Regions from separate parts of the Homo sapiens genome. Here region 2 is reported to be linked to region 1. The links are microRNA targets in miRTarBase. Many come from high-throughput screens and were not tested one by one. Region 1 holds a microRNA gene; the other region holds the end of a gene's coding sequence.
Evidence for each region. The annotated mature microRNA hsa-miR-5682 reads GUAGCACCUUGCAGGAUAAGGU and lies in region 1 at 6,019-6,040, shown strand. An mRNA with a match to its seed (bases 2 to 7 or 8) in the 3' UTR can be bound and repressed. Matches are read on the target gene's strand: a 7mer-m8 pairs with bases 2 to 8, a 7mer-A1 pairs with bases 2 to 7 and ends in A, and an 8mer does both.

Region 2: miRTarBase lists CASP8 as a target of hsa-miR-5682. Seed matches in the 3' UTR shown: 7mer-m8 at 14,080-14,086.

What each region holds. Positions count from the first base shown.
Region 1 is chr3:121,043,666-121,060,214 of GRCh38, forward strand. MIR5682 (microRNA 5682) reads left to right here and starts at 5,975; the gene lies at 5,975-6,050. It overlaps STXBP5L (syntaxin binding protein 5L), which reads left to right. Exons shown (of 27, transcript NM_001308330.2): 5 at 1,770-1,870.
Region 2 is chr2:201,285,496-201,300,681 of GRCh38, reverse strand. CASP8 (caspase 8) reads right to left here. Exons shown (of 9, transcript NM_001372051.1): 9 at 12,973-14,223. The coding sequence ends at 14,088. It overlaps FLACC1 (flagellum associated containing coiled-coil domains 1), which reads left to right. Exons shown (of 15, transcript NM_001127391.3): 12 at 1,382-1,444; 13 at 10,897-10,986; 14 at 11,116-11,225; 15 at 11,901-12,411. The coding sequence ends at 12,027. Among named protein-coding and RNA genes, the nearest start is that of CASP8, 33 kb to the right of the region's middle. RefSeq lists a cis regulatory region at 12,180 and an enhancer at 12,108-12,252.

The DNA of each region.
Region 1 (16,549 bases):
ACCACTGCACTCCAGCCTGGCAACAGAGCGAGACTCCATCTCAAAAACAAACAAACAAACAAAAAAAGAATACTGAGTTCCTCACTAGAATTATTTAGGTATTACTGTAAGATATTATTGAATATATGCTACTTTAATAACATTGCCTTTGGCATGTTTTATCTTCTGTATAGCATGTAACTATCTCTTGTAGAGAATGTTTTATTGTTGTTACATATCATGTTCTATCCTCACCCCATCTCAGGTGAACTTCCACCTCTCTGAGAAATGAGACCAGTATACTGTATTCAAAAAAATCAAGTGTAACTCATCAAATGCTTCCAAGGAATCCTAATAAATTTCTCGTTTGTTTATAGGAAGCATAAGTACAGTATACAAATAAAACAGGCAAACAAACACAAAAATTATCAAGGCTTATATATAGAATACCTCCTATTTCATTGAAGGAAATTATCTGAGTTCATGTTAAGATGTATATATCAATATATACATCTTTGAACATGTATGTATGTAATTAGATATAAATGTGCAAATCATACAAATTTCTAAATATTTTCTTGGATATGATCTTTGATTATGTTTCTATTTTTATAAAGCCATTCCTCTCTGAGACTAAAATCACAGGTACCAAATATAAAGAGACCTATCATAGGATACATGAGCATTTTTTTGGCTTAGAAATTATTATAGAAGGGCATTTAGATTCCTATCTTCTCTCTTCTAATTCCTAAAGAAGAAATAAATGCTAGCAATTTCAATATCGTTCTTCCTAGCATCTAAATGGGATATCTGTGATTGATACTGTAAACTATGAGAGATTACTTCTAACAAAGTACTTTGGAAAATATAAAAAGCCTTTTAGGTATCTCTGGACAACCAAGGTTCTGAAAGATCACTCTTAGAGAACACATTTAATGCTCTGGATTTAGGATCTGTGAATGGGTAAGCATCGACATTTTCAGCTGGTTAGCTGTCATTATGGTAAAAGTTCTAACATTTTAAAATGATCTGATTTAACCCAGTCAAATAAATAGTTTAAGCATATATACAAAGTCATACAAACAGTTATTATCTGTCCACATGCTTTCTGCCACATTAAGAGGTAGAAAATATCCTATTGTATGCGAAATAGGATTCATTTGTATTTGGTGGTGCTGTATAAAAGGAATCTTAGTATAATTTTATAGTTATACTAAATTCTAGTTGGAGAAATGTTTTCTTTTATTATGGATATTTCCTTTATAATTGATGAAGCTTCTTGGACTATAAGAAGCAAATTAAATTATACCAAATATACTTTTTAGGAAGAATATACGCTTTCCAAATATACAGAAAATTCTTGCAAAGGAGAATTTTTATATGACCTGTATTCAATTTTGTAAGACTGCATTGAATATTTTCTTCTCTGTAAGGCTATATAGTATATGTGTAAACAGTAGAAACAAAAACCATCCCTAAACTATTTTTTCCCAAAGAAAAACCTTTAATGGCCATAACAGTGCTATAATAATTAATCCTCTCTATTGGTAAATAAATATTCCTTAAGCTAGTCTCCCTGACCGTTGAAATGCAGTGGGTCAGTTGCCTCTTCTACTTTCAGCATTCTTACCCTTCCTGATTGAAGTTTATGCACCTATCCTTCCTTATATTTCTGAGATAACAAAAGTAACTCTTCAGGTAGTAAACATTGAGTAAATTAGCTTGTTTGTGATTAAAAAAACCCTAAATTAAGTAAATCACACACTTACTTTATCTTCTTTTTGTTCTAGGGTGCCTTGGTCAGTGCAAGTTCAGATGATACACTTCATTTGTGGAACCTTAGACAAAAAAGGCCAGCCATACTCCATTCTCTTAAATTTAACCGGGAACGGTAAGAACCTATGAATTAAACAATTTCTTAATGTACAACAAAATTATTTCCTGAGCAAGTTTTTGTTAACTTGACAGGCTTTTTTCCTCATAATCTCAACAGCTAGAAATAATTTAATGTTTATGCTTACTTTCATAGTGTTTTCTTTTTTGTAGAAAATGCGTAATTGATATAGATCCAGTCACCTACTAATGCAGTGTTTATTAGCTTAAGGAGCTTTTGGGCTGAGATTATGGGGTTTTCTATGTGTAGACTCATATTATCTTCAAAGAGAGATAATTTGACTTCCTTTCTTCCTATTAATATTTACAGGCCTTTTATTTCTTTCTCTTGCATGATTGCTCTGCCTAGGACTTCCAGTCTATGTTGACTAGGAATGGTGAGAGATGGCATCCTTGTCTTGTTTTGGTTTTCAAGGGGAATGCTTCCAGGTTTTGCCCATTCAGTATGATGTTGGCTGTGAGTTTGTCATAGATGGCTCTTCTTATTTTGAAATATGTTCCTTTAATGTCTAGTTTGTTGAGGGGTTTTAACATGAAGGACATCGAATTGTACCAGAAGACTTTTCTGCATCTATTGAGATAGTCATGTGGTTTTTGTTTTCAGTTCTGTTTATGTAGTAGATCGCATTTATGTATTTGTGATTATTGAACCAACCTTGCATCCTGGGATAAAGCCTGCTTGAGTGTGGTTGATTAGCTTTTTCACGTGCTGCAGGATTCAGTTTGCTAGTATTTTGTTGAGAATTTTTACATCTGTGTTCATCAAGGATATTGGCCTGAAGATTTTTTTGTTGTATTTCTGCCAGGTTTTGGTATCAGGATGAAGCTGGCCTCATAGAATCAGTTGGAGAGGAGTTCCTCCTCCTCAATTTTTTGGAGTAGTTTCAGTTAGAATGGTACAAGCTATTCTTTATGCATCTGGTGGAATTTGGCTGTGAATCATTCTTGTCCTGGGTCCTTTATGGTTGGTAGGCTTTTTATTACTGATTTAATTTTGGAACTCTTTATTGGTCTGTCCAGGGATTCAATTTCTCCCTGGCTCAATCTTGGGAGTTTGTATGTTTCCAGGAATGTATTCATTTATTTTAGGTTTTCTAGTCTATGTGCATAGAGGTGTTCATAGCAGTCTCTGAGGGTTTTTTATATTTCTGTGGGGTTGGTGGTAATGTCTTTTTTGGCATTTATGATTGTTTATTTGGATCTTCTCTCTTTTTCTCTTTATTAGCCTAGCTAGTGGTCTATCATATTTCTTATGTCAAAAAACCAACTCTTGTACTCATTGATCTTTTGTATGGTTTTTTTGCCTCTTAGTTTCCTTCATTTCAGCTCTGATTTTAGTTATTTCTTGTCTTTTGCTAGCTTTGGGTTTGTTTTGTATTGTTTCTCTAGTTCCTCTAGGTGTAATGTTAGGTTGCTAATTTGAGATTTTATGAATTTTTGATGTGGACCTTTAGCACTATAAACTTTCCTCTTAGCACTACTTTAGCTGTGTCCTAGAGATTCTGGTATGTTTTCTTGGTTCTCAGTAGTTCCAGAGAATTTCTTGATGTCTGCCATAATTTCATTGTTTACCCAAAAGTCATTCAGGACCAGGTTGTTTAATTTCCATCCAATTGTATGGTTTTGAGCGATTTTCTTAGTATTGATTTTTATTTTTATTGCATTATGGCCTGAGAGTGTGGTTGGTATGGTTTCATTTTTTTTAGATTTTCTGAGGATTGTTTTATGTCCAATTGTGTGGTTGATTTTAGAGTATGTGCTATGTACAGATAAGAAGATGGTATATTCTGTTCCTTTTGGGTAGGGCATTTTGTAGATGTCTAATAGTTCCATTTGGTGAAGTGTTAAGTTTAGATCCTGAAAATCTTTGTTAATTTTCTGACTGGATGGTCTATCTAAAAACTGTCAGTAGGGTGTTGAAGTCTCCCACTATTATTGTGTGGGAATCTAAGTCTCTTTGTAGGTCTCTAAGAACTCGCTTTATGAATCCGGGTACTCCTGTGTTGGGTGCATATATATTTAGGATAGTTAGGCATTCTTGTTGAATTGAACCCTTTACCATTACGTAATGTCCTTCCTTGTCTTTTTTGATCTTTGTTAGCTTAAAGTATGTTTTGTCTGAAATAACAACCCCTGCTTTTTTCTGACTGCCATTTGCTTGGTAGATTTTCCTCTATCCCTTTACTTTGAGCCTATGGGTGTCATTACATGTGAGATGGGTCTCTTGAAGACAGCATACCATTCAGTCCTGCTTCTTTATACAGCTTGCCACTCTGTGCCTTTTAATTGGAGCATTTAGCCAATTTACATTCAAGTTTAATATTTATGTGTGTGGATTTGATCCTTTCATCATGTTTCTAGCTGGCTATTGTGCATACTTGTTTGTGTGGTTGCTTTATAGGGTCAACAGTTTGTATACTTAAGTGTCTTTTTGTAGTAGCTTATAACAGTCTTTGCTTTCCATATTTAGCACTCCTTTCAGGACCTCTTGTAAGGCAGGTCTGGTGGTCATAAATTCCCTTAGCATTTGCTTATCGGGAAAGAATCTAATTTCTCCTAGGTTTATGAAGCTTAGTTTGGCTGGATATGAAATTCTTGCTTGGAAATTGTTTTATTTAGTAAGGCTGAATATAGACCCCCAATTTCTTCTGGCTTGTAAGGTTTCTATTGAAAGGTCCTCTGTTAGCCTGATGGGGTTTCCTTTGTAGGTGACATGCCCCTTCTCTCCAGTTGCCTTTCACTTTTTCCCTTTTCTTTCAGCCTTGGAGAATCTAATTATGTGTCTTGGCCATGGTCTTTTTGTGTAGTATCTCACGCTGGTTCTCTGCATTTCCTGAATTTGTATTTTGGCCTCTCTAGTGAGGCTGGGGACGTTTTCATGGGTGATATTCTGAAATATATTTTCCAAGTTGCTTGCTCTCTCCTTATCTCTTGCAGGGATACTAATGAATTGGAGATTTGGTCTCTTTACATAATCCTTTATTTTTTGAGTGTTTTGTTCATTTTCTTTCTCTGACTGAGTTAGTTCAGAGAACCAGTCATTGAGCTCTCAGATTCTTTCCTGAACTTGGTCTATTCTTCTGTTAATACTTGCAATTACATTATGAAATTCTTGTAGTGTGTTTTCCACTCTATCAGATCAGTTAGAGTCTTTTTTTTTTTTTTTAAGACAGAGTCTTGCTCTATTGCCCAGGCTGGAGTGCAGTGGCACAATCTTGGCTCACTGCAACCTCCGCCTCCCTGGTTTGAGCGATTATCCTGCCTCAGCCTCCTGAGTAGCTGGGACTACAGGTGCTGGGAGCCCAGGTCAAGAGGCACTGCCCAGTGAAGAGTAGTGGAGGCATGTGGACAAGTCTGGCTGCTTTTCCATAAAGTGGCTGTGTTGTGCTAGAGGTTTGTATCGGTCCCCAACCACTATATGTCCTCTCAATCCCAAGGGCAACAGGAGCAAGGGCTGCAGGGCAGCAAAAATGGTGGCCTGCTTGCTCCTTCTGTGAGCTCTGTCCCAGAAAAGCACAGAGCTGCTACTAGCCTGAGAGCCTAGGTAGGGGGTGGCTAGAGACCCCGGTAGGGAGACACTGCCCAGAGAACCATAGCAGGGTTGGGGACCCATGTAGAAAACAGTCTGCTGCTTTTCTGTAAGGTGGCTGCACTGTGCTAGGGGTTCATGGTAGTCCCTAATCACTGTGTACCCTCCTGATCTTGAGGGCATCAGTGGGGAAGGTTGTAGGGCAACAAACATGGTGGCCTGCCTTTCCCACTGAGAGCTCTGTCCCAGGGAAGTGGAGAGCTGGTAGTGGCCTAAGAGTCCAGTGTGGGGTGGTTGAGGTTCTAGGTCAGGAGGCCTTGCTCAGTGAGAAGTAGCAGGGGTGGGGGCTCCTGTGTAAAACAATCTGGCTACTTTTCCTTAAGGTGGCTGCCTTTTACTGAGTGTCTACGATTGCCCCTAATCACTGAGTACACTCCCCAGCCTGAGGGCAAACAGGAGGGAGGGTTGTGGATGTGGTCTGCCTCTCCCTCTAGAAGCTTGTCCCAGAAAAGCACAGAGCTGCTCCTGATCCGAGAATTCTGGTAGGGCTGTGGTGGTCTCACTAGTGTCCCAGGCCCATGGGTCTTATCCTGCAAGGTGCTGCAGAGACGAGGCCTGTAGCACCTTGCAGGATAAGGTCTACTGGGCCTAGTTACTCTTCAGCCACATGGATTCAGCCCCTTTCCTGGAGACGTGAGGGAGCCTGGCCTCCTCCATTGCTAGAGCTGCATCTGCTGGTGTTGAGGTGCCTGGGGATCCAGCACTCCTGGGAGTCTGTGAGTACCTGAGTGATGGCTCTGCCAAGACTCCACATAACTCTTTGCATGTTTGTCTGGAAGCCCTGGTTGCAGGGATCATGAGAAATCTCCTGATCCTGAGTCCAAGGATGCAAAGGTCCATGACAGAAGTGTGAATCCCTGGGGACTCTCACTCACTCACTGTTCCCTGTGATGTGAGGACTCCTCTGGCTCCATGCCACTTCTGGGTGGGCAATTGTCCTGTCTTGCTCTTCTCTGTTCACTGTGGGTGATGCTGTTTCCCTGATAAATCCCCATGTTTCCACCTGGATGTTCTGGTTGAAGAGCTAGTGTCCATTCACCACTGTTTCTTCTCTCCATGAGAGTGGTGCTTATTACCCACTTCTACTCAGCTATCTCACGCCAAATCTCTAAACTTAGTCTTTTTTTTTAAGAGGAAAGGAATTTATATTTTAGAAATTTGTTGAAACTAGATAGGACTTATTTCTTTAGTCCTAATTCTGGTTATTTTAGTTTAAAATAAGTAATGTAGCAGAAATTTCAAGGATATCAAAAAACTTTAAGATCAGTAAAGAGTTGTTCAGAAGAGAGTGGGGGCCAATATTCAACATTCTTAAAGAAAAGAATTTTCAACCCAGAATTTCATATCCAGCCAAACTAAGCTTCATAATTGAAGGAGAAATAAAATACTTTACAGACAAGCAAATGCTGAGAGATTTTGTCACCACCAGGCCTGCCCTAAAAGAGCTCCTGAAGGAAGCACTAAACATGGAAAGGAACAACCGGTACCAGCCACTGCAAAAATATGCCAAAATGTAAAGACCATCAAGGCTAGGAAGAAACTGCATCAACTAACGAGCAAAATAACCAGCTAACATCATAATGACAGGACCAAATACACACATAACAATATTAACTTTCAATATAAATGGACTAAATGCTCCAATTAAAAGACACAGACTGGCAAATTGGATAAAGAGTCAAGACCTATCAGTGTGCTGTATTCAGGAAACCCATCTCATGTGCAGAGACACACATAGGCTCAAAATAAAGGGATGGAGGAAGATCTACCAAGCAAATGGAAAACAAAAAAAAGCAGGGGTTGCAATCCTAGTCTCTGATAAAACAGACTTTAAACCAACAAAGATCAAAAGAGAAAAAGAAGGCCATTACATAATGGTAAAGGGATCAATTCAACAAGAAGAGCTAACTATCCTAAATATATATGCACCCAATACAGGAGCACCCAGATTCATAAAGGAAGTCCTGAGTGACCTACAAAGAGACTTAGACTCCCACACAATAATAATGGGAGACTTTAACACCCCACTGTCAACATTAGACAGATCAACGAGACAGAAAGTTAACAAGGATACCCAGGAATTGTACTCAGCTCTGCACCAAGCAGACCTAATAGACATCTACAGAACTCTCCACCCCAAATCAACAGAATATACATTTTTTTTCAGCACCACACCACACCTATTCCAAAATTGACCACATAGTTGGAAGTAAAGCTCTCCTCAGCAAATGTAAAAGAACAGAAATTATAACAAACTGTCTCTCAGACAACAGTGCAATCAAACTAGAAGTCAGGATTAAGAAACTCACTCAAAACCGCTCAACTACATGGAAACTGAACAACCTGCTCCTGAATGACTACTGGGTACGTGACGAAAAGAAGACAGAAATAAAGATGTTCTTTGAAACCAACGAAAACAAAGACACAACATACCAGAATCTCTGGGACACATTCAAAGCAGTGTGTAGAGGGAAATTTATAGCACTAAATGCCCACAAGAGAAAGCAGGAAAGATCCAAAATTCACACCCTAACATCAAAATTAATAGAACTAGAGAAGCAAGAGGAAACACATTCAAAAGCTAGCAGAAGGCAAGAAATAACTAAAATCAGAGCAGAACTGAAGGAAATAGAGACACAAAAAAACCCTTCAAAAAATTAATGAAGCCAGGAGCTGGTTTTTCAAAAAGATCAACAAAATTGATAGACCGCTAGCAAGACTAGTAAAGAAGAAAAGAGAGAAGAATCAAATAGATGCAATAAAAAATGATAAAGGGGATATCACCACCGATCCCACAGAAATACCATCAGAGAATATTACAAACACCTCTATGGAAATAAACTAGAAAATCTAGAAGAAATGGATAAATTCCTGGACACATACACCCTCCCAAGACTAAACCAGGGAGACGTTGAATATCTGAATAGACCAATAAGAGGTTCTGAAATTGTGGCAATAATCAATAGCTTACCAACCAAAAACAGTCCAGGACCAGATGGATTCACAACCGAATTCTACCCGAGGTACAAGGAGGAGCTGGTACCATTCCTTCTGAAACTATTCCAATCAATAGAAAAAGAGGGAATCCTCCCTAACTCATTTTATGAGGCCCGCATCATCCTGGCATCCAGGCTTTGATACCAAAGCCTGGCAGAGACATAACCAAAAAAGAGAATTTAAGACCAATATCCCTGATGAACATCGATGCAAAAATCCTCAATAAAATACTGGCAAACAGAATCCAGCAGCACATCAAAAAGCTTATCCACCATGATCAAGTGGGCTTCATCCCTGGGATGGAAGGCTGGTTCAATATACGCAAATCAATAAATGTAATCCAGCATATAAACAGAACCAAAGGCAAAAACCACATGATTATCTCAATAGATGCATAAAAGGCCTTTGACAAAATTCAACAACCCTTCATGCTAAAAACTCTCAACAAATTAGGTATTGATGGGACATATCTCAAAATAATAAGAGCTATCTATGACAAACCCACAGTCAATATCATATTGAATGGGCAAAAACTGGAAGCATTCCCTTTGAAAACTGGCACAAGACAGGGATGCCCTCTCTCACCACTCCTATTCAACATAGTGTTGGAAGTTCTGGCCAGGGCAATCAGGCAGGAGAAGGAAATAAAGGGTATTCAATTAGGAAAAGAGAAAGTCAAATTGTCCCTGTTTGCAGATGACATGATTGTGTATCTAGAAAACCCCATTGTCTCAGCCCAAAATCTCCTTAAGCTGATAAGCAACTTCAGCAAAGTCTCAGGATGCAAAATCAATGTACAAAAATCACAAGCATTCTTATACACAAATAACAGACAAACAGAGAGCCAAATCATGAGTGAACTCCCATTCACAATTGCTTCAAAGAGAATAAAATACCTTGGAATCCACCTTACAGGGACGTGAAGGACCTCTTCAAGGAGAACTACAAACCACTGCTCAAGGAAATAGAGGATACAAACAAATGGAAGAACATTCCATGCTCATGGGTAGGAAGAATCAATATCGTGAAAATGGCCATATTGCCCAAGATAATTTATAGATTCAATGCCATCCCCATCAAACTACCAATGGCTTTCTTCACAGAATTGGAAAAAACTACTTTAAAGTTCATATGGAGCCAAAAAAATCCCCCATTGCCAAGTCAATCCTAAGCCAAAAGAACAAAGTCGGAGGCATCACACTCCCTGATTTCAAACTATACTACAAGGCTACAGTAACCAAAACAGCATGGTACTGGTACCAAAACAGAGATATAGATCAATGGAACAGAACAGAGCCCTCAGAAATAATTCTGCATATCTACAACCATCTGATCTTTGCCAAACCTGACAAAAACAAGAAATGGGGAAAGGATTCCCTATTTAATAAATGGTGCTGGGAAAACTGGCTAGACATGTGTAGAAAGCTGAATTTGGATCCCTTACACCTTATACAAAAATTAATTCAAGATGGATTAAAGACTTAAATGTTAGACCTAAAACCATAAAAACCCTAGAAGAAAACCTAGGCAATACCATTCAGGACATAGGCATGGGCAAGGACTTCATGTCTAAAGCACCAAAAGCAATGACAACAAAAGCCAAAATTGACAAATGGCATCTAATTAAACTAAAGAGCTTCTGCACAGCAAAAGAAACTACCATCAGAGTGAACAGGCAACCTACAAAATGGGAGAAAATTTTCGCAACCTACTCATCTGACAAAGGGCTAATATCCAGAATCTACAATGAACTCAAACAAATTTACAAGAAAAAAAAACAAACAACCCCATCAAAAAGTGGGCAAAGGATATGAACAGACACTTCTCAAAAGAAGACATTTATGCAGCCAAAAGACACATGAAAAAATGCTCATCATCACTGGCCATCAGAGAAATGCAAATCAAAACCACAATGAGATACCATCTCACACCCGTTAGAATGGCAATCATTAAAAAGTCAGGAAACAACAGGTGCTGGAGAGGATGTGGAGAAATAGGAACACTTTTACACGGTTGGTGGGACTGTAATCTAGTTCAACCATTGTGGAAGTCAGTGTGGCGATTCCTCAGGGATCTAGAACTAGAAATACCATTTGACCCAGCCATCCCATTACTGGGTATATACCCAAAGGATTATAAATCATGCTGCTATAAAGACACATGTGCACGAATGTTTATTGTGGCACTATTCACAATAGCAAAGACTTGGAACCAACCCAAATGTCCAACAACGATAGACTGGATGAAGAAAATGTGGCACATATACACCATGGAATACTATGCAGCCATAAAAAGGATGAGTTCATGTCCTTTGTAGGGACATGGATTAAACTGGAAACCATCATCTCAGCAAACTATCACAAGGACAAGAAAGCAAACACCGCATGTTCTCATTCACAGGTGGGAATTGAACAATGAGAACACATGGACACAGGAAGGGGAACATCACACTCCAGGGCCTGTTGTGGGGTGGGGGGAGGGGGGAGGGATAGCATTAGGAGATATACCTAATGGTAAATGACGAGTTAATGGGTGCAGCACACCAACATGGCATATGTATACATATGTAACAAACCTGCACATTGTGCACATGTACCGTAAAACTTAAAGTATAATAATAATAAAATTTTAAAAAGAGTTGTTTTACTGTTTCTTTTTCTTTACCAGTAAAATATTAACCTATTTAGATCACCATATTGATTTTATCTTTCTCTCTGTTTGTAAGATTTTTCTTCTAATACTTTGAATAGATCTGACTGTATACTTTTATGTGGATGGACAGAGTGTTTTTATTTCCCCTCACAATTGGAATGTTGAAGGCAATGTTCTGGCCCCTTTTATGGACTTTTTGGGAGGAAGAATTGATTAGTGGTGATGATTTCCAATAGTGATTTTATTATCTCAACTGAGTTAGATTAATTGGTAGAAACATAAAAGAGCAAGCTGACAGATTTGAGATAAGTTTTAATCACAGGAAGTTTGAAAATGTTTTAATGCTTACATTAAAGATAAATGTGATATTTATCTCTTAAGAAAGATACATACATATTGTCATGTAACATGAGAATATTCATTATGATCATAACTTATTGGAGGAGATAAAATTATCTATCGAAGTATGGTGAATGGGAGGTTCAGGTCCTATAGGAGAATTTAACCAAGCATCTTTTGGGACATTCTCCAAAACATCTGATATTAGCCGTTTAATTCTGTAAATTTTCTAAGTACTCTTATGTTTATGCTAAATGTGTTTCAGTTTATAAATTTATACTATAAATTTTAGCTTATTTTATTAGGGCACCTACAGTCTTTAGTCTTACAATTTTTGAAGGCAGAATCCAGCCTTAGATTGTTAAGTAATAGGCTTTCATTATTATTATTACTATTATTGGAGTATTATTATTGGAGACAGGGTCCTGCTCTGTCTCCCAGGCTGGAGTGCAATGGTGTGATCCTAGCTCACTGCAGCCTCAAACTCCTGGGCTCAAGCAATCCTCCCGCCTCAGCCTCCTTAGTGCTGGGACTATGGGCATGTGCTACCATACCCAGCTATTTTTTTTTTAAAGTAGAGATGGTTTCTTACTATGCTTTTTTTGAGACAGGGTCTCACTCTGTCACCTAAGCTGGAGTACAGTAGCATCAGCTTGGCTCACACAACCTTGAATTCCTGGGCTACAGCAGTCCTCCCACCTTAGCCTCCTGAGGTGTGCACTATGATGCCTGACTAATGTTAATTTTTTTTTTTTTTTTGTAGAAACAGATTCTCTCCATGTTGCCCAGGCTGATTTCAAATTCCTGGGCTCAAGCAATCCTCCCACCTTAGCCTCCCAAAGTGCTGGGATTAGAGGCATGAGCCACTGTGCTTGGCCTGGGGTCTCACTGTGTTGCCTAGGCTAGACTTGAACTACTGGGCTCAAGCTATCCTCCTGCCTTGGCCTTACAAAGTATTAGGATTACAAGTATGAACCTTTGCATCTGGTAAGGCTTATATATTAAAGCCTTTCTGGTGGATGATCCTTGGACTTCTTACAAATACGATTTTAAACCTAAATAGGGAAGAAAAAATGTCTTGATTTTTGTAATGCATGATCTGAGTAATGAATAAAATAAAACATTCATATTTTAGGCATAGCAGTCCTTGCTATCACAATCATAAATTTATGTAATACTGGAGAAAGCATAGAGTTGTTTTATATGGCTTTTGAGTGAAATTCAAATGTAGGCTACGATATACAGACCCTTAAATTATCTGTACTTATTATGTATATTTAATTTTTCTTACTCTAGTGTTCTGCTACTTACTATCAGAGAATTTCTGAAAACTATTAACTAAACTGGAAGGAAGCAATATTTTGTTGAAAACTCCATAATTTATGAAATCTCTGGCAAACTGGATCCATCTGAATTGGCTTTTGCAGACCCAATTTATAACCCACATTTAAAATATTTTATAAAGGCAATTTGAACTGGCTTTGATTCTTTTCAAAGTGTTGCATAACTAATATATTTACTGGGTTTGACATTCAAAAGGTACAACAGTGTATGCAATAAAGGATCTTTCTTCTATTCCTGTCCCCTGGACACTTACTTACTTCCCCTCAGCAGAGCTAAACAGTGTAATTAATTTGTTTTTTCTTTATAGACGTTCATTACATACATATATAAGCAAATATAATATGTAACATAATTTTCTTTCTTATATGTACATAAGCCAAATAGAAAACCATATATTTTTACATATATCATATATAGAGAGAATATCATATTTTTTTGTTAAACAAATTAGCAAGACCTTTAAACAAATTAGCAAGGTCTTTATAATATATTATAAAGAGGGAAAAAAGCGAGACAAAATATACATATATATTTATATATATTTTATTACACACAATATATTGTTAAACAAATTAGCAAGATCTTTAGAATATATTATAAAGAAGGAAGAAAGCAAGACAGAAAACTGCATAACATGCTACATAACAATGAAAATAAATAAACTACAGTTAAATGCAACATGGATGAAACTCATAAATACAGTGCTGAGCAAAAGAAGCCGAAAGAAAACTTCATATATATTATTCCATTTTTGTATGCGTCAAAAAACAGGCAAAATTAATGCTACATGTTAATGTAGCATGTTATACAGTTTTGTGTCTTGCTTTTTTCCCTCTATAGTATATTCTAAAGGATCACTCTTTATATAGACTTTCCCTATTTCTTTGTTTGTTTGTAAATTTTACTGAATCATCAGGAAACTGTTTAAATCTTAAGTGTACACCTTGAAATAACTTTGCCGTTGTGTAACAAACACCTAAATCAAGATACAGAAAATTACTAGATTCATAGAAACTCCCCTATGTTACCTTCCAGTCACTTACCCCCAGGTATCCTAATTTCCAACTCTATAGATTAATTTTGCCTGTTTTTGACACATATAAAAATGGAATAATATATATATAGTTCTTTGCTTTTGGATTCCTTTGCTCAGCACTGTATTTATGAGTTCCATCCATGTGGCATTTAGCTGTAGTTTATTTATTTTCATTATTATGTACTATTCTATTTAATGGATATTCTGCAATTTGATTAACCATTCTATTTTAGTTCTCTTTCTTAAACTTAACTTTTGCATTTCTATTTTTTATAACATTTCTTTAGAAAATATATCAATAATTTGGTATAATAATAAAAATTTTTAAATTCTTTTTATATCTCTTTTTTCTATCTCTCATTCTCTGTCTCTCACTCTATCTTCCAAATACATACTATAGCCTGACTCATCATATTGTTTTCTGTCTCCCAAGTAGCATAACACCTTGCTCTTTTATTTATGTTTTTTGTTGTTGTTGTTTTTTAAAAATTTTTTATTATACTTAAAGTTTTGGGATACATGTGCAGAAAGTGCAGGTTTGTTACATAGGTATACAAGTGCCATGGTGGTTTGCTGCACTCATCAATCCGTCATCTACATTAGGTATTTCTTGTAATGCTATCCCTCCCCTACACCCCCATCACCCAACAGGACCAGTGTGTGATATTCCCCTCCCTGTGTCCATGTGTTCTCATTGTTCGCCTCCCACTTATGAGTGAGAATATGCGGTGTTTGGTTTTCTGTTCTTGTGTTAGTTTGCTGAGAATCGTGGTTTCCAGCTTCATCCATGTCCCTGCAAAAGACATGAACTAATCCTTTTCTATGGCTGCATAGGAGTCCATGGTGTACATGTGCCACATTTACTTTATCCAGTCTATCACTGATGGGCATTTGGGTTGGTTGCAAGTCTTTGCTACTGTGAACAGTGCTGCAAAAAGCATGCATGTGCATGTGTCTTTATAGTAGAATAATTTCTAATCCTTTGGTTATATACCCAGTAATGGGATGGCTGGGTCAAATGGTATTTCTGATTCTAGATCCTTGAAGAATCGCCACAGTCTCTTCCACAATGGCTGAACTAATTTACACTCCCACCAACAGTGTAAAAGTGTTCCTATTTCTCCAAATCCTCTCCAGCATCTGTTGTTTCCTGACTTTTTAATCATAGCCATTCTAACTGGCGTGAGATGGTATCTCATTGTGGTTTTGATTTGCATTTCTCTAATGACCAGTGATGATGAGCTGTTTTTCATATGTTTGTTGGCTACATAAATGTCTTCTTTTGAGGAGTGTCTGTTCATATCCTTTGCCCACTTTTTGATGGGGTTGTTTTTTTCTTGTAAATTTGTTTAAGTTCTTTGTAGATTCTGGATATTAGCCTTTGTCAAATGGATAGATTGCAAAAAATGTTCTCCCATTCTGTGGGTTGCCTGTTCACTCTGATGATAGTTTCTTTTGCTGTGCAGAATCTCTTTAGTTTAATTAGATCCCATTTGTCAATTTTGCCTTTTGTTTCCATTGCTTTTGGTGTTTTAGTCATGAAGTCTTTGCCCATGCCTATGTCCTGAACAGTATTGCCTAGATTTTCTTCTAGAGTTTTTATGATTTTAGGTCTTACGTTTAAGTCTTCAATCCATCTTGAGTTAATCTTTGTATAAGGTGTAAGGAAGGGGTCCAGTTTCAGTTTTCAGGATGTGGCTAGCCAGTTTTCCCAACACCATTTATTAAATAGAGAATCCTTTCCTTATTGCTTGTTTTAGTCAGGTTTGTCAAAGATCAGATGGTTGTAGATGTGTGGTGTTATTTCTGAGGCCTCTGTTGTGTTCCATAGGTCTGTATATCTGTTTTGTTACCAGTACCATGGTGTTTTCATTACTGTAGCCTTGTAGTATAGCTTGAAGTCAGGTAGCATGGTGCCTCCAGCTTTGTTCTTTTTGCTTAGGATTGTCGTGGCTATGTGGGTTCTTGTTTGGTTCTATATGAAATTTAAAGTAGTTTTTTTTCTAATTCTGTGAAGAATGTCAGTGGTAGCTTGATGGGGATAGCATTGAATCTACAAATTACTTTGGTCAGTATGGCCATTTTCACCATACTGATTCTTCCTATCCATGAGCATGGAATGTTTTTCCGTTTGTTTGTGTCCTCTCTTATTTCCTTGAGCAGTGGTTTGTAGCTCTCCTCGAAGAGGTCCTTCACATCCCTTGTAAGCTGTATTCCTACGTATTTTATTCTGTTAGTAGCAATGGTGAATGGGAATTCACTCATGATTTGGCTGTTTGTCTATTATTGGTGTCTAGGAATGCTTGTAATTTTTGCACATTGATTTTGTATTCTGAGACTTTGCTTAAGTTGCTTATCAGCTTAAGGAGATTTGGGGCTGAGACTATGGGGTTTTCTAAATATATAATCATGTCATCTGCAAACAAAGACAATTTGATTTCCTCTCTTCCTATTTGAATACCCTATATTTCTTTTGCTTGCCTGATTGCCCTGGCTAGAACTTCCAATACTATGTTGAATAGGAGTGGTGAGAGAGGGCATCCTTGTCTTATGCTAGTTTTGAAAGGGAATGCTTCCAGTTTTTGCCCATTCAGTATGATATTGGCTGTGGGTTTGTCATAAATAGCTCTTATTATTTTGAGATACGTTCCATCAGTACCTAGTTTACTGAGTGTTTTTAGCATGAAATGGTGTTGAATTTTGTCAAAGGCCTTTTCTGC
Region 2 (15,186 bases), not on the chromosome of region 1:
CCCCTACTGGGCGGTGCCTCCCAGTTAGGCTTCTCGGGGGTCAGGGACCCACTTGAGGAGGCAGTCTGTCCATTCTCAGATCTCAGACTCCATGCTGGCAGAACCACTACTCTCTTCAAAGCTGTCAGACAGGGATGTTTAAGTCTGCAGAAGTTTCTGCTGCCTTTTGTTGAGCTATGCCCTGCCCCCAGAAGTGGAATCTACAGAGGCAGGCAGGCCTCCTTGAGCTGTGGTGGGCTCCACCCAATTCGAGCTTTCCAGCCGCTTTGTTTACCTACTCAAGCTTCAGCAATAGCAGGCGCCCATCCCCCAGCCTCACTGCTGCCTTGCCATTCAATCTCAGACTGCTGTGCTAGCAGTGAGCAAAGCTCCGTGGGCGTGGGACCCTCCCAGCCATGCATGGGATATAATCTCCTGGTGTGCCATTTGCTAAGACTGTTGGAAAAGCACAGTATTAGGGTGGGAGTGACCCGATTTTCCAGGTGCCGTCTGTCACGGCTTCCCTTGGCTAGGAAAGGGAATTATCTGACCCCTCGCGCTTCCCAGGTGAGGCGGTGCCCCACCCTGTTTCGGCTCCCGGTCCGTGGCCTGCACCCACTGTCCTGCACCCACTGTCTGACAAGCCCCAGTGAGATGAACCTGGTACCTCAGTTGGAAATGCAGAAATCACCTGTCTTCTGCATCACTCATGCTGGGAGCTATAGACTGGAGGTGTTCCTATTTGGCCATCTTGGAAACTCCCCCTAAACCTCTTTTCTTTATAAATTACCCAGTCTCTCAGGTAGTTCTTCATAGAAATGTGAGATCAGACTAATATAGTGTCTTTGCTGTATTTGGGGTGTTAGGACTCTCCGTTCTGTTTGACTATTTTTCCATACTTAGGTCAACAACACATTGTCTTGACTACTGAAGTTTGAAATCGGGTAGCAAAGGTTATCTAGCTTTGCTATTGTTTTTCAAGATTATTTTGCCTTTCCACATGCTTTGTATTTTTACATAAATGTTAGAACTAGCTTGTCAATTTAGAATTAGCTTATCAAGGAAGTTTGCTGATATTTTGACTGGGATTTCATTGAATATAAAGATCAATCTGTGGCGAGATTAATTCTTAAGAGTATTGAATCTATCCACTGACTTAAGAAAAGCTTTTGATGAAAATATAATTTCTTTTAATATTTGTCAGTGAGATAAGGTTGAACATAATTAAGATTTTCATTAACTTCAACAAGTCATGTCACTAGTTTATAATGTGTGCTTCATTATAGCAGTGTCTAAGCTTTGGTGAATATTATATTCCTGAATCCTAGTCTGGCTTTCTTAACTCCCTAGAAGATGTGCCAGAACCACAGTGCTAACCTTTTCCCAATAAAATTGTTTTTAGGAGCTCTTGAAACAACATCAAAGTGACACCTTGCAATTAGAAGAGCTGAGAAAAACCAAAGAGGTAAGCTTTTTCATCCTTTCCTGTGGACTTGGTATATTACAAATACACCAATAAAATAACAAGCTGTCAGTATAATGGAATCAATGATAATTTCCCCAAAGCCAATAAGAAATGGAAGACCTAAAGCTGAGTTTACTGGATTCAATAAGTTAAAAAGAATTTTTGAAATTATCTGTAAAATAAAGCCAGTGGGTCTTTTTAAAGTCTGATTTGAACAAATAGATCAGCAATATACTATGTGATCTTCAATGTTGAATGACTTTCATTTCTAGCAAGGTTCAAACCACAAATGATCTTTCAGTTATAAAACACCAAGTTCTTCCCTTTGAGCTCTGAAAAGTATAAAACTGTCTCCTTTGAAACTCTGTCACCAAGCCCCTCCTTAAGCTCTGAATGTACCTCACACATGATAACTTCCTCAGGGACTCTATTCTGGGGCAAATTATGGCAGTCTGTGGGAGACAACTGAAGAGGAGCCGTTCAAATCCACAAGGTGATGTGTGATTCTTCCATCACTGAAAATTTGACTTGGATCCAGAATGGACACGTTTGAGAAAACATTAGTCATTATAAAGGCATTGTAAATGAATTCTATCTTAGAGCCCAGGCAGGGCTTCAGCATTATGGAAAGGCAAACAGACTGTGGTGTCCTACAAGTTCAAGAAATGGGCTTTGGAGGAAGATATACCCAGTGTATTATAATAACTATTTTCATGAGCTTGTCTACGAATTCTGTCATTTGTGTCATGTCTGGGCCTGTTTCTCTTCATTGATTTTTCTCCTCATTTATGGTCATATTTCCTTGTTTGCATGCCTGGTAAGTTTGGCTTGGATGTCAGTCATTTTGGTGTTTACCTTGTTGGGTGCTGAATATTTTTATATTCCTTTAGATATTCTTAAGCTTTGCCCTGGGATGCAGTTAAGTTGCCTGGAAACAGTTTGATCCTTTCAAGCCTTGCTTTTTAAGCTTCGTTGGGCAGAACTAAAGCAGTCTTTAGTGTGGAACTAATTTTCCCCACTATTGAGGTAATACCCTCTGAGTACTTGACACCACACCCTCTGTATGAGAAGGATTTTCTACTCTGCCTGGTGGGACCATGAACTATTCCCAGCCTTGTGTTGGCCCTGGGGATTGTTCCACCTGCTCCTTGCTGATGTTTCCTTCCTCTAACCTTGTCTCTTTCTATTTCTTCCCTACATCACTCCACCCCAGAGGCACTTGCCTCCTTGCTGTTCCCTTAACAGGCCAGGATGTTCCTACCTGGGGGTCTTTGATGTTCTCTCTTCCTGAAAAGCTCTTTCCCGGATATCCACATGACTAACTTCCTTTCCTCCTCCTGTTCTTTATTCAAATGCCACCTTCTCAGAAGGTGCCCGATTTAAGGGCTCCGCTCCCTGCCCAACACTTGCTTTTCTCCAAATGGGATGCCACTGGAGGTTTTTGAGGAGAGAGTATCATTTGGGAAAATAACTGTGGCAGCAATGTGAAGGAGAATCTGAAGAGGCAAAATGATGGGAGGCAGAACCTATTAGAAGGGTCACCTCCCCTTTACACCTCAACCTGACTTCTGCTCCAATCCCAGCCATGGAAACTGTTCTTGTTAAAATCACAAGTAAATTCCGAGTTGCCAAATCCAAGGAATGCTTCACCTCACTGGACATGAGCAGTATCAGGTGCGATTGATCATTCTCTCCTTGCAACATTCACCTGTCTTAGCTTTCATGGGCTTCTGGTGTTTCCTTCACCTCATTGGTCACACCTTCTCAATCTCCTTTACTAGAACTAGAACTCTGCTTAAAACCCTTCAATGGCACCCCACTGTTCTCCCACCTACTTTCTAAGTCCTGGAGTATTTTGAGGCTTGTTCCCAGGCCCCACTTATCTTCTTTATCTCCCGTTTCTCCTTTGGTGAGCTCATCTGTTCACACAGATGTAAAAGCCATCTCTGTACTGATAACTTGGTTTGATACCTCCAGCCTTGCCTCTCTCCTGAGCTCCAGGCTTGTACATCCAACTGCCCATTTGACATTTCAACATAGGTGACATACAGACACCTCAAAATTAACATGCCCAGTTCCACACTCTCAATTTTCCACCAGAGATTTAGCCCCCAAATTGTCAACTCCCTCAGCTGTTCTAAGCCTAGACCTGAAGTCATCCTTGATTTCTTCTTTCCTTTCACTCTCCCAAATTCAACCCAGCAGCCTCAGCCAATCCTCTATAACATAATCCAAATTCATCCACGTCCCTCCAACTCTGTTGTCACCTTACCCTAGTCCATTATTTCTCACCTACACGACTGTAGTATTCTCCTCCTTAGTTCCGTTGCTTTCCCTCTTGCCCTTCCAATCCATCCCCATGGAGCATAATGTAAACAGTAAGATACGTGCATTCACTTCTCTGCTTAAAACCCTTCAGTAGGTCCCCATTGTTCTTAGGTTACCTTGTCCTCTCAGGTGCCACCAGACTTCCCTGTATTTCCTCACCATGGCCCTCTATCCTTACTATCTCTATTCCAGCCATATTGGTGTTCCTTTGGGTCCTCAAACAGAATGAGAATTTTGCATTTTTTTTATTATACTGTAAGTTTTAGGGTACATGTGCATAATGTACAGGTTTGTTACATATGTATACATGTGCCATGTTGGTGTGCTGCACCCAGTAACTCGTCATTTAACATTAGGTATATCTCCTAATGCTATCCCTCCCCCCTCCCCCCACCCCACAACAGGCCCCGGTGTGTGATGTTCCCCTTCCTGTGTCCATGTGTTCTCATTGTTCAATTCCCACCTCTGAGCAAGAACATGTGGTGTTTGGTTTTTTGTCCTTGCCATAGTTTGCTCAGAATGATGGTTTCCAGCTTCATCCATGTCCCTACCAAGGACATGAGCTCATCATTTTTTATGGCTGCATAGTATTCCATGGTATATATGTGCCACATTTTCTTAATCCAGTCTATCATTGTTCGACATTTGGGTTGGTTCCAAGTCTTTGCTATTGTGAGTAGTGCCGCAATAAACATACGTGTGCATGTGTCTTTATAGCAGCATGATTTATAATCCTTTGGGTATATACCCAGTAATGGGATGGCTGGGCCAAATGGGATTTCTAGTTCTAGATCCCTGAGGAATCGCCACACTGACTTCCACAATGGTTGAACTAGTTTACAGTCCCACCAACAGTGTAAAAGTGTTCCTGTTTCTCCACATCCTCTCCAGCACCTGTTGTTTCCTGACTTTTTAATGATCGCCATTCTAACTGGTGTGAGATGGTATCTCATTGTGGTTTGATTTGCATTTCTCTGATGGCCAGTGATGATGAACATTTTTTCATGTGTCTTTTGGCTGCATAAATGTCTTCTTTTGAGAAGTGTCTGTTCATATCCTTTGCCCACTTGTTCATGGGGTTGTTTGTTTTTTTCTTGTAAATTTGTTTGAGTTCATTGTAGATTCTGGAATATTAACCCTTTGTCAGATGAGTAGGTTGCAAAAATTTTCTCTCATTCTGTAGGTTGCTTGTTCACTCTGATGGTAGTTTCTTTTGCTGTGCAAAAGCTCTTTAGTTTAATTAGATCCCATTTGCCAATTTAGGCTTTTGTTGCCATTGCTTTTGGTGTTTTAGACATGAAGTCCTTGCCCATGCCTATGTCCTGAATGGTATTGCCTAGATTTTCTTCTAGGGTTTTTATGGTTTTAGGTCTAACATTTAAGTCTTTAATCCATCTTGAATTAATTTTTGTATAAGGTGTAAGGAAGGGATCCAGTTTCAGCTTTCTACATATGACTAGCCAGTTTTCCAAGCACCATTTATTAAATAAGGAATCCTTTCCCCATTTCTTGTTTTTGTCAGATTTGTCAAAGATCAGATAGTGTAGATATATGGCATTATTTCTGAGGGCTCTGTTCTGTTCCATTGGTCTATATCTCTGTTTTGGTACCAGTACCATGCTGTTTTGGTTACTGTAGACTTGTAGTATAGTTTGAAGTCAGGTAGCGAGATGCCTCCAGCTTTGTTCTTTGGCTTAGGATTGACTTGGCAATGCGGGCTCTTTTTTGGTTCCAGATGAACTTTAAAGTAGTTTTTTCCAATTCTGTGAAGAAAATCATTGGTAGCTTGATGGGGATGGCATTGAATCTATAAATTACCTTGAGCATTATGGCCATTTTCACGATGTTGATTCTTCCTATCCATGAGCATGGAATGTTCTTCCATTTGTTTGTATCCTCTTTTATTTCGTTGAGCAGTGGTCAACGAAGAGGTCCTTCACATCCCTTGTGAGTTGGATTCCTAGGTATTTTATTCTCTTTGAAGCAATTGTGAATGGGAGTTCACTCATGATTTGGCTCTCTGTTTGTCTGTTATTGGTGTATAGGAATGCTTGTGATTTTTGCACATTGATTTTGTATCCTGAGACTTTGCTGAAGTTGCTTATCAGCTTAAGGAGATTTTGGGCAGAGATGATGGGGTTTTCTAGATATACAATCATGTCATCTGCAAACAGGGACAATTTGACTTCCTCTTTTCCTAATTGAATACCCTTTATTTCCTTCTCCTGCCTCATTGCCCTGGCCAGAACTTCCAACACTATGTTGAATGGGAGTGGTGAGAGAGGGCATCCCTGTCTTTTGCCAGTTTTCAAAGGGAATGCTTCCAGTTTTTGCCCATTCAGTATGATATTGGCTGTGGGTTTGTCATAGATAGCTCTTATTATTTTGAGATTCGTCCCACCAATACCTAATTTATTGAGAGTTTTTAGCATGAACGGTTTTCGAATTTTGTTGAAGGCCTTTTCTGCATCTATTGAGATAATCATGTGGTTTTTGTCATTGGTTCGGTTTATATGCTGGATTACATTTATTGATTTGCGTATGTTGAACCAGCCTTGCATCCCAGGGATGAAGCCCACTTGATCATGGTGGATAAGCTTTTTGATGTGCTGCTATATTTGGTTTGCCAGTATTTTATTGAGGATTTTTGCATCGATGTTCATCAGGGATATTGGTCTAAAATTCTCTTTTTTTGTTGTGTCTCTGCCAGGCTTTGGTATCAGGATGATGCTGGCCTCATAAAATGAGTTAGGGAGGATTCCCTCTTTTTCTATTGATTGCAATAGTTTCAAAGGAATGGTACCAGCTCCTCCTTGTACCTCTGGTAGAATTCGGCTGTGAATCCATCTGGTCCTGGACTTTTTTTGGTTAGTAAGCTATTAATTATTGCCTCAATTTCAGAGCCTGTTATTGGTCTATTCAGGGATTCAACTTCTTCCTGGTTTAGTCTTGGGAGTGTGTATGTGTCCAGGAATTTATCCATTTCTTCTAGATTTTCTAGTTTATTTGCATAGAGGTGTTTATAGTACTCTCTGATGGTAGTTTGTAGTTCTGTGGGATCGGTGGTGATATCCCCTTTATCGTTTTTTTTTGCGTCTATTTGATTCTTCTCTCTTTTCTTCTTTATTAGTCTTGCTAGCATTCTATTAATTTTGTTGATCTTTTCAAAAAACCAGCTCCTGGATTCATTGATTTTTTGAAGGGTTTTTTGTGTCTCTATCTCCTTCAGTTCTGCTCTGATCTTAGTTATTTCTTGCCTTCTGCTAGCTTTTGAATGTGTTTGCTCTTGCTTCTCTAGTTCTTTTAATTGTGATGTTAGGGTGTCAATTTTAGATCTTTCCTGCTTTCTCTTGTGGGCATTTAGTGCCATAAATTTCCCCTACACACTGCTTTAAATGTGTCCCAGAGATTCTGGTATGTTGTGTCTTTGTTCTCATTGGTTTTGAAGAACATCTTTATTTCTGCCTTCATTTCATTATGTACCCAGTAGTCATTCAGGAGCAGGTTGTTCAGTTTCCATGTAGTTGTGTGGTTTTGAGTGAGTTTCTTAATCTTGAGTTCTAGTTTGATTGCACTGTGGTCTGAGAGACGGTTTGTTGTGATTTCTGTTCTTTTACATTTGCTGAGGAGTGCTTTACTTCCAACTATGTGGTCAATTTTGGAATATGTGCGATGTGGTGCTGAGAAGAATGTATATTCTGTTCATTTGGGGTGGAGAGTTCTGTAGATGTCTATTAGGTCTGCTTGGTGCAGAGCTGAGTTCAATTCCTGGATATCCTTGTTAACTTTCTGTCTCGTGGAGCTGTCTAATGTTGACAGTGGGGTGTTAAAGTCTCCCATTATTATTGTGTGGGAGTCTAAGTCTTTTTGTAGGTCTCTAAGGACTTACTTTATGAATCTGGCTGCTCCTGTATTGGGTGCATATATATTTAGGATAGTTAGCTCTTCTTGTTGAATTAATCCCTTTACCATTATATAATGGCCTTCTTTGTCTCTTTTGATCTTTGTTAATTGAAAGTCTGTTTTATCAGAGACTAGTATTGCAACCCCTGCCTTTTTTTGTTTTCCATTTGCTTGGTAGATCTTCCTCCATCCCTTTATTTTGAGCCTCTGTGTGTCTCTGCATGTAAGGTGGGTTTCCTGAATACAGCACACTGATGGGTCTTGACTATCCAATTTGCCAGTCTGTGTCTTTTAATTGGAGCATTTAGCCCATTTACATTTAAGGTTAATATTGTTATGTGTGAATTTGATCCTGTCATTCTGATGTTAGCTGGTTATTTTGCTCGTTAGTTGATGCAGTTTCTTCCTAGCCTCGATGGTCTTTACAATTTGACATGTTTTTGCAGTGGCTGGTACCGGTTGTTCCTTTCCATGTTTAGTGTTTCCTTCAGGAGCTCTTTTAAGGCAGGCCTGGTGTGACCAAATCTCTCAGCATTTGCTTGTCTGTAAAGTATTTTATTTCTCCTTCAATCATGAAGCTTAGTTTGACTGGATATGAAATTCTGGGTTGAAAATTCTTTTCTTTAAGAATGTTGAATATTGGCCCTCACTCTCTTCTGGCTTGTAGAGTTTCTGCTGACAGATCTGCTGTTAGTCTGATGGGCTTCCCTTTGTGGGTAACCCGAGCTTTCTCTCTGGCTGCCCTTAACATTTTTTCCTTCATTTCAATTTTGGTGAATCTGACAGTTATGTGTCTTGGAGTTGCTCTTCTCGAGGAGTATCTTTATGCTGTTCTCTGTATTTCCTGAATCTGATTGTTGGCCTGCCTTGCTCGGTTGGGGAAGTTCTCCTGGATAATATCCTGCAGAGTGTTTTCCAACTTGGTTCCATTCTCCCTGTCACTTTCAGGTACACCAATCAGACGTAGATTTGGTCTTTTCACATAGTCCCATATTTCTTGGAGGCTTTGTTCATTTCTTCTTATTCTTTTTTTTCTAAACTTCTCTTCTTGCTTCATTTCATTCATTTGATCTTCCATCACTGATACCCTTTCTTCCAGTTGATCGAATCGGCTACTGAGGCTTGTGCATTTGTCACATACTTCTTGTGCCATGGTTTTCAGCTCCATCAGGTCCTTTAAGGACTTCTCTGCATTGGTTATTCTAGTTAGCCATTCGTCTAATCTTTTTTCAAGGTTTTTAACTTCTTGGCCATGAGTTCGAACTTTCTCCTTTAGCTCGGAGTAGTTTGATCATCTGAAGCCTTCTTCTCTCAACTCGTCAAAGTCATTCTCCATCCAGCTTTGTTCTGTTGCTGGCGAGGAGCTGCATTCCTTTGGAGGAGGAGAGGCACTCTGATTTTTAGAATTTTCAGTTTTTCTGCTCTGTTTTTTCCCCATCTTTGTGGTTTTATCTACCTTTGGTCTTTGATGACAGTGACGTACAGATGGGGTTTTGGTGTGGATATCCTTTCTGTTTGTTAGTTTTCCTTCTAACAGTCAGGACCCTCAGCTGCAGGTCTGTTGGAGTTTGCTGGAGGTCCACTCTAGACCCTGTTTGCCTGGGTATCAGCAGCGGAGGCTGCAGAACAGCAGATATTGGTGAACAGCAAATGTTGCTGTCTGATTGTTCCTCTGAAAGTTTTGTCTCAGAGGAGTACCCAGCCGTGTGATGTGTCAGTCTGCCCCTACTGGGGGGTGCCTCCCAGTTAGGCTACTCAGGGGTCAGGGACCCACTTGAGGAGGCAGTCTGTCCATTCTCAGATCTCAAGCTGCGTGCTGGGAGAACCATTACTCTCTTCAAGCTGTCAGACAGGGACATTTAAGTCTGCAGAGGTTTCTGCTGCCTTTTGTTTGGTTATGCCTGCCCCCAGAGGTGGAGTCTACAGAGGCAGGCAGGCCTCCTTGAGCTGCGGTGGGCTCCACCCAGTTCGAGCTTCCTGGCCACTTTGTTTACCTACTCAATCCTCAGCAATGGTGGGCGCCCCTCCACCAGCCTCACTGCCACCTCGCAGTTTGATCTCAGACTGCTGTGCTAGCAATGAGCAAGGCTCCGTGGGCGTAGGACCTTATGAGCCAGGCATGGGATACAATCTTCTGGTGTGCCGTTTGCTAAGACTGTTGGAAAATGCAGTATTAGGGTGGGAGTGACCTGATTTTCCAGGTGCCATCTGTCACCCCTTTCCTTGGCTAGGAAAGGGAATTCCCTGACCCCTTGCACTTCCCGGATGATGTGATGCCTCGCCCTGCTTCGGCTCATGCTCAGTGCACTGCACCCACTGTACTGCACCCACTGTCTGACAATCCCCAGTGAGATGAACACGATACCTCAGTTGGAAATGCAGAAATCATACGTCTTCTGCATCGCTCACGCTGGGAGCTGTAGACTGGAGCTGTTCCTATTCGGCTGTCTTGGCTCCACCCCTGAGCATTTTGCATTCTAAGGACCTTTGCACAGGCTTCTATTCATTCTTTAGTGGAAGTTTGTGTGTTTGTTTCAAGAAGCTACTTTTTAGAGCAGTTTTAGGTTTACAGAAAAATTGAGCAGAAAGTACAGAGAGTTCCCATATACTACCCCACCCCACCCTACCCCACCACTAGTTTCCTTTATTATTAGTATCTTGCATTGGGATGGCACATTAGTTGCAATTGATGAGCCAATGTGGATGCATTCTTATTAACTAAAGTCCATAGTTTACATGAGGGTTCTCTCTTTGTGTTGTACATTCTGTGGGTTTTGCCTAATATGTCATGTCATGTATCCACCATTATAGTGTCATACAGAATAGTTTCACTGCTCTAAAAGTGCCCTCTATCCCACCTATTCATCCCTCCCTTCCCCTCCAAATCCCTAGAAACCACTAATCTTTTTTCTCTCTCTATAGTTTTGCCTTTTCCAGAGTGTCATATAATTGGAATCGGTAGTAGGTATTTAATAAAGACTTGCTTAGTGAATGAATAACTGATTGCCATTAGAACCATTCATATGAGCTCTGGTGAGGCTGAAGAGAAGGATATAGATGGGTGAGACAGAGAGGAGGCAGGACTGACAGGGTGTGAGTGGCCATGAGTGATGCAAAAGTAGCTCAGGTTGCTCCCTTTCATCATAGTCCAGGTGCCCTGGAGAAGAGACCAAATAAATAGACATTGGCATGATGTCCTGCAACAGCTTCTTCTTATGCAGGTCATGCAGGAAGAATTGCATGCACAAGCCCTTATCCTAGAGTCACTGAACACAAACCTCTACTATACCCAGTTGGAACTCCAGAAAGAGGTGAGTCCCTACTGGAGTGGGGATGGGGGTTGGGGGAAGAACCCAGGTCTCCATCCAGCTCTGCCATATAGCTCTGCCCTGGATGGCTCTGGGTTGGGGAAGATGGCTATTAAAATGTATGTCTTTCAGAAAGCTATAGTGGGAAATCTGGAGAAAATGCTTCAAACCAAGTTTGCTGAAACTGAAGAAAAGTATAAGCACACCATACAGATCCTGACGGAAGAGAACATTCATCTGAAGTGCGGCTGCTGCTGAAAAAGACATAGCTGAGTTCTCTTTAGGAGTGGGAAGGAGTTTGAGTGAGGAATGGGTTAGGAAGATAGACCAACTGCTCCCTAGTTATGTCAAGGCACAGGTGTTTTCGGGAGGGAGGTATGTCACTCTAGGCCAGTGACACAAAGCCAGATAGTTCACTTGAGGTGGAGTGGAGATGTGTCTATACTTCTCCCATTCACCTGTGTCCTTGTTTCTATGCAAAACAACACAGGACATTTGTCTTCCAGTTTCTGAGTTTGCTCAGTTCTATGACTGAGGGTGGTTTTTAAATCCATCTCCCCTGGGAGTCTGATGGTCTTGCCATTACATGCAGCTGCTTCTGGTTCCTATGGAAATCACCTTTGGATCAGAAGGTGTACTGTTACCTGAAGCTGCATCTTAAATCATTAAAATAAATTTTGGTCAATACTTTAATAGAAGAAAGTTATTTATTGCATTGATTTAGTAGAAAATTCCTCGTATAGGACTTTAGTCACCTGAACACCATACCTCACTAAATTCAAAACCACTGCAAGTAATGAGTGAGAGACTGCTGTGGTGAAGGAACGAAGGCACATTTCTCTCCCTGCACTCCAAATATCCTATACCCTTTCTAGCTTTTGAGTTGACATTGATACATCTTTCCTTTCTTTTTACAGGCAAAAGATAATTTCTAAGAATGAAGAAATTTGTGAAGGATGTTCTGGGAGATTGGCCTCTATTACTGTTTCTAAGGATGATTCTGACACTGTGCAAGATGGTAGCAAGAAAGGACAAGAATCATAAACAAAAAGTTGCTCTGCATTGTTGAAGATGGTTGGCACACCATTTCTGTAGGCCCAGGAAACTCCTGGGAGGGTTTTCTTGAGAAAATGCATATAATGAGTTTAGTTCTTGGGTTGCTCTGACTCTCTGAATGTCTGAAAATGTTTGAATTCGCATCTGAATTTCACAGCTTATCACGGACTCTTCACTGAAAAATGATGCTCTCCATACTGGGAGCTGAGCTTTCTCTGAGTTTTGTACTATTTTTCTTCTACCTTGACGTATTTCGTTAGAAAGAAACTGATTTGAAGGCCTTCTTCATATTGAACTTTTACTATATTTGGGAGGTGTACCTTTGTCCCCTGGGGCATTTAGGTAGCAAAAAAAGATGATGTGTTGATTTTACTCTAAAATATTTTTCTCTCACACCCATGCCCCCTACTTCCCTACCTCTCAATCATGTTCCCTAACCTATGACTTAGGAAGGGTTTCTGATGATTCTTACCACCTCCTCTGGACCATCACCAGAATTCAGACACCCACAGTGCAGGCAACATAAATAAGTGAAGTGGGCTAGACATAAGGAAAACAATTGCCCAAGCACAGTGATAAGTGGCAACCAACAGCAGCCTCAGTAGAGGGGCTTGGGCAGGGCTGGGGCACAGCGGATGGGGAAGAGTGACCCACAGAGCACTGTCCCATCTGAAGAAGGTGCTTCTCAGACCTTTGCCATGCAAAAGCATGAGGTCAATATTGTCAGATAGTATGATTTTTTAAAAGAAGTTATTCTGGTTTTTATGTGATATCTCCTAATTTTTAAACATTGACAACAAATTTTAAAAATACAACTGTGTGTGCCGATCATGGGAGACTCAAGTAGAACATGTCTGTAGTCCAGATGTTTTCCACCTGTGAGATGTCATTGGCAGAAACCAAAACCAAACACAAAAAATCTCCAAGGAGCAATAAGATCAAATTATATTTTATTCTATTAAAAAATGTTTTTGAAAAAAGATACTTAAATTTTAAAGATAACTTAATTCCTAATGATTTAAAATAATCCAAGCAGAGATGAAAGAGCAAATGCAAATGCATAAAAAGACCCCAGAGCATTGTTAGCAAAAAGCAAATATAGTTAGCCAAGCATATATATATCATAAAAGCAATAAGAAGGCATAAAGCAAGTTTGGGGAGAGCTTATTTAAAACTTGTAAAAATCATTTGAATTTTTAAAAGATTTCAAACAAATTTTGTTTTATTAAAAAAAAAATTTTTTTTGAGACGGGGTCTTGTTCTGTCACCCAAGCTTGAGTGCAGCGGTGTGAACATGGCTCACTGCAGCCTTGACCTCTTGGGTTCAAGCAATCCTCCCACCTCAACCTCCCAAAGTGCTGGGATTATAGACATGAGCCACCATACGTGGCTACTTTCTAATTTTTTTAATGTGGTAGTGTGGAATTTAGCTTTGAAAGAGAATTAAAGTTAATAGAATATTAACAGTGGGCTTATAGTTGATAGATAACAATCTGAATCATAAGCCCTCTATATTCATAGCTGGATTTTGTACGTGTCTGGTATTTATTGCCACCAGCTAAAAACATTCCCAAAGCCTTAAGCATAAGAGAAAGGAGACAGTGTTATTGTTGTTAATATCCTATTTAACTTTAGCTCTTATAAAAAAGTGCAAAACAATTAATAAAGTAGAAAATCTAGAAAATTAGTAAATAAACATAGTGTTATATCTAAATAGTACCATCGGCCAGGCGCGGTGGCTCACGCCTGTAATCCCAGCACTTTGGGAGGCCGAGGTGGGTGGATCACGAGGTCAGGAGATCAAGACCACCCTGGCTAACACAGTGAAACCCTGTCTCTACTAAAAATATTTTTAAAAAATTAGCCAGGTGTGGTGGCGGGCCCCTGTAGTCCCAGCTACTCGGGAGGCTGAGGCAGGAGAATGGCCTGAACCCGGGAGGCGGAGCTTGCGGTGAGCCGAGATCACGCCACTGCACTCCAGCCTGGGCGACAGAGCGAGATTCTGTCTCAAAAAAACAAAACAAAACAAAACAAACAAAATAGCACCATCAATCAGAAGGGAAGACAAGTTTTTTTCTTAGTGTGAAAGTAGGCTGAGGCATCTGTTTCCCCATGTTTTTCTTGTCATCCTTGTTGCTTACTTCATAGTTCACTTCAGTCAGGATGGTGAGAATATCATCGCCTCTGAAATACATCACATAATATTGTGACTGTCTGTGGGGGAAAGCAACTGATGAACTGTCTCCTCTGCTGTGCTCAGAGATAGTTCTGTAGTTCTTTCTCTCAAAATATCAGTCATTTGAAACAATAAGGTGCGAAACCAAGACCTACCCCAGCTTTCCTGGTAAATGGGTTGTCTCAGAGCTTAATAACTTACTTTTGGTTTATTCAGGAACTCTTTTGACCATCAGAAACCTCGGTGTCAGTATTAGAGTTGGTTTCTTTCTCTCCTGACCTGTGTGTCTCTCACTCTTCTCCACGTTACTTGGCTCCCCATTGCTTCAATGCCCCCCAATACTCTCTGCCTCGAATTGACATCGCATCTGCGGATTCATCTTTGATGCAATTAAACTTAAGGCAAGTGAAAGTATAACGTCTCCTGCAGCTACTCCCACCTTCTTCTCACCAGGATCTCTTAGCATTTTTGTTAGGCAACCTCTTCTTCTACCTTGGTAGCTAGCCGCGGAAACCTTGCAGGATTCATGATCTAAGTTACGAAATCTAAGTTAGATTCATGATCTAAGTTACGGGAAATTCTCACTCTTCATATACTCAAAACATGAAATACAGGGCTAGAAGGAACCTGCTATTTATCTCCCATAATGCACCAAGAGGTTTTGAGGATGGTTTGCTATTATAGAACTTTTGACAGAGTTGGAGGATGTTTAAACATTGAATTGGGTTACTGCCTTCTTGGAAGATTTCCAAAACTAGTTGAATTGGCTCAGTCATGTTTTGGCCTAAAGACAGAGAGCTGGAGTATATGACTTTCCTATCCTTTCCTGCTCTGTGATACCCTGATTGTCCTTTGAGGTGCTGAATAAAGGAATAAAGCATCTCAGCTTTTCCATCTATAAACTAAGGATGTTAACACTTGCCACTCTCCCACTTTGTAACTGACCTGGGAAATGCAGCTATGTGATCTAC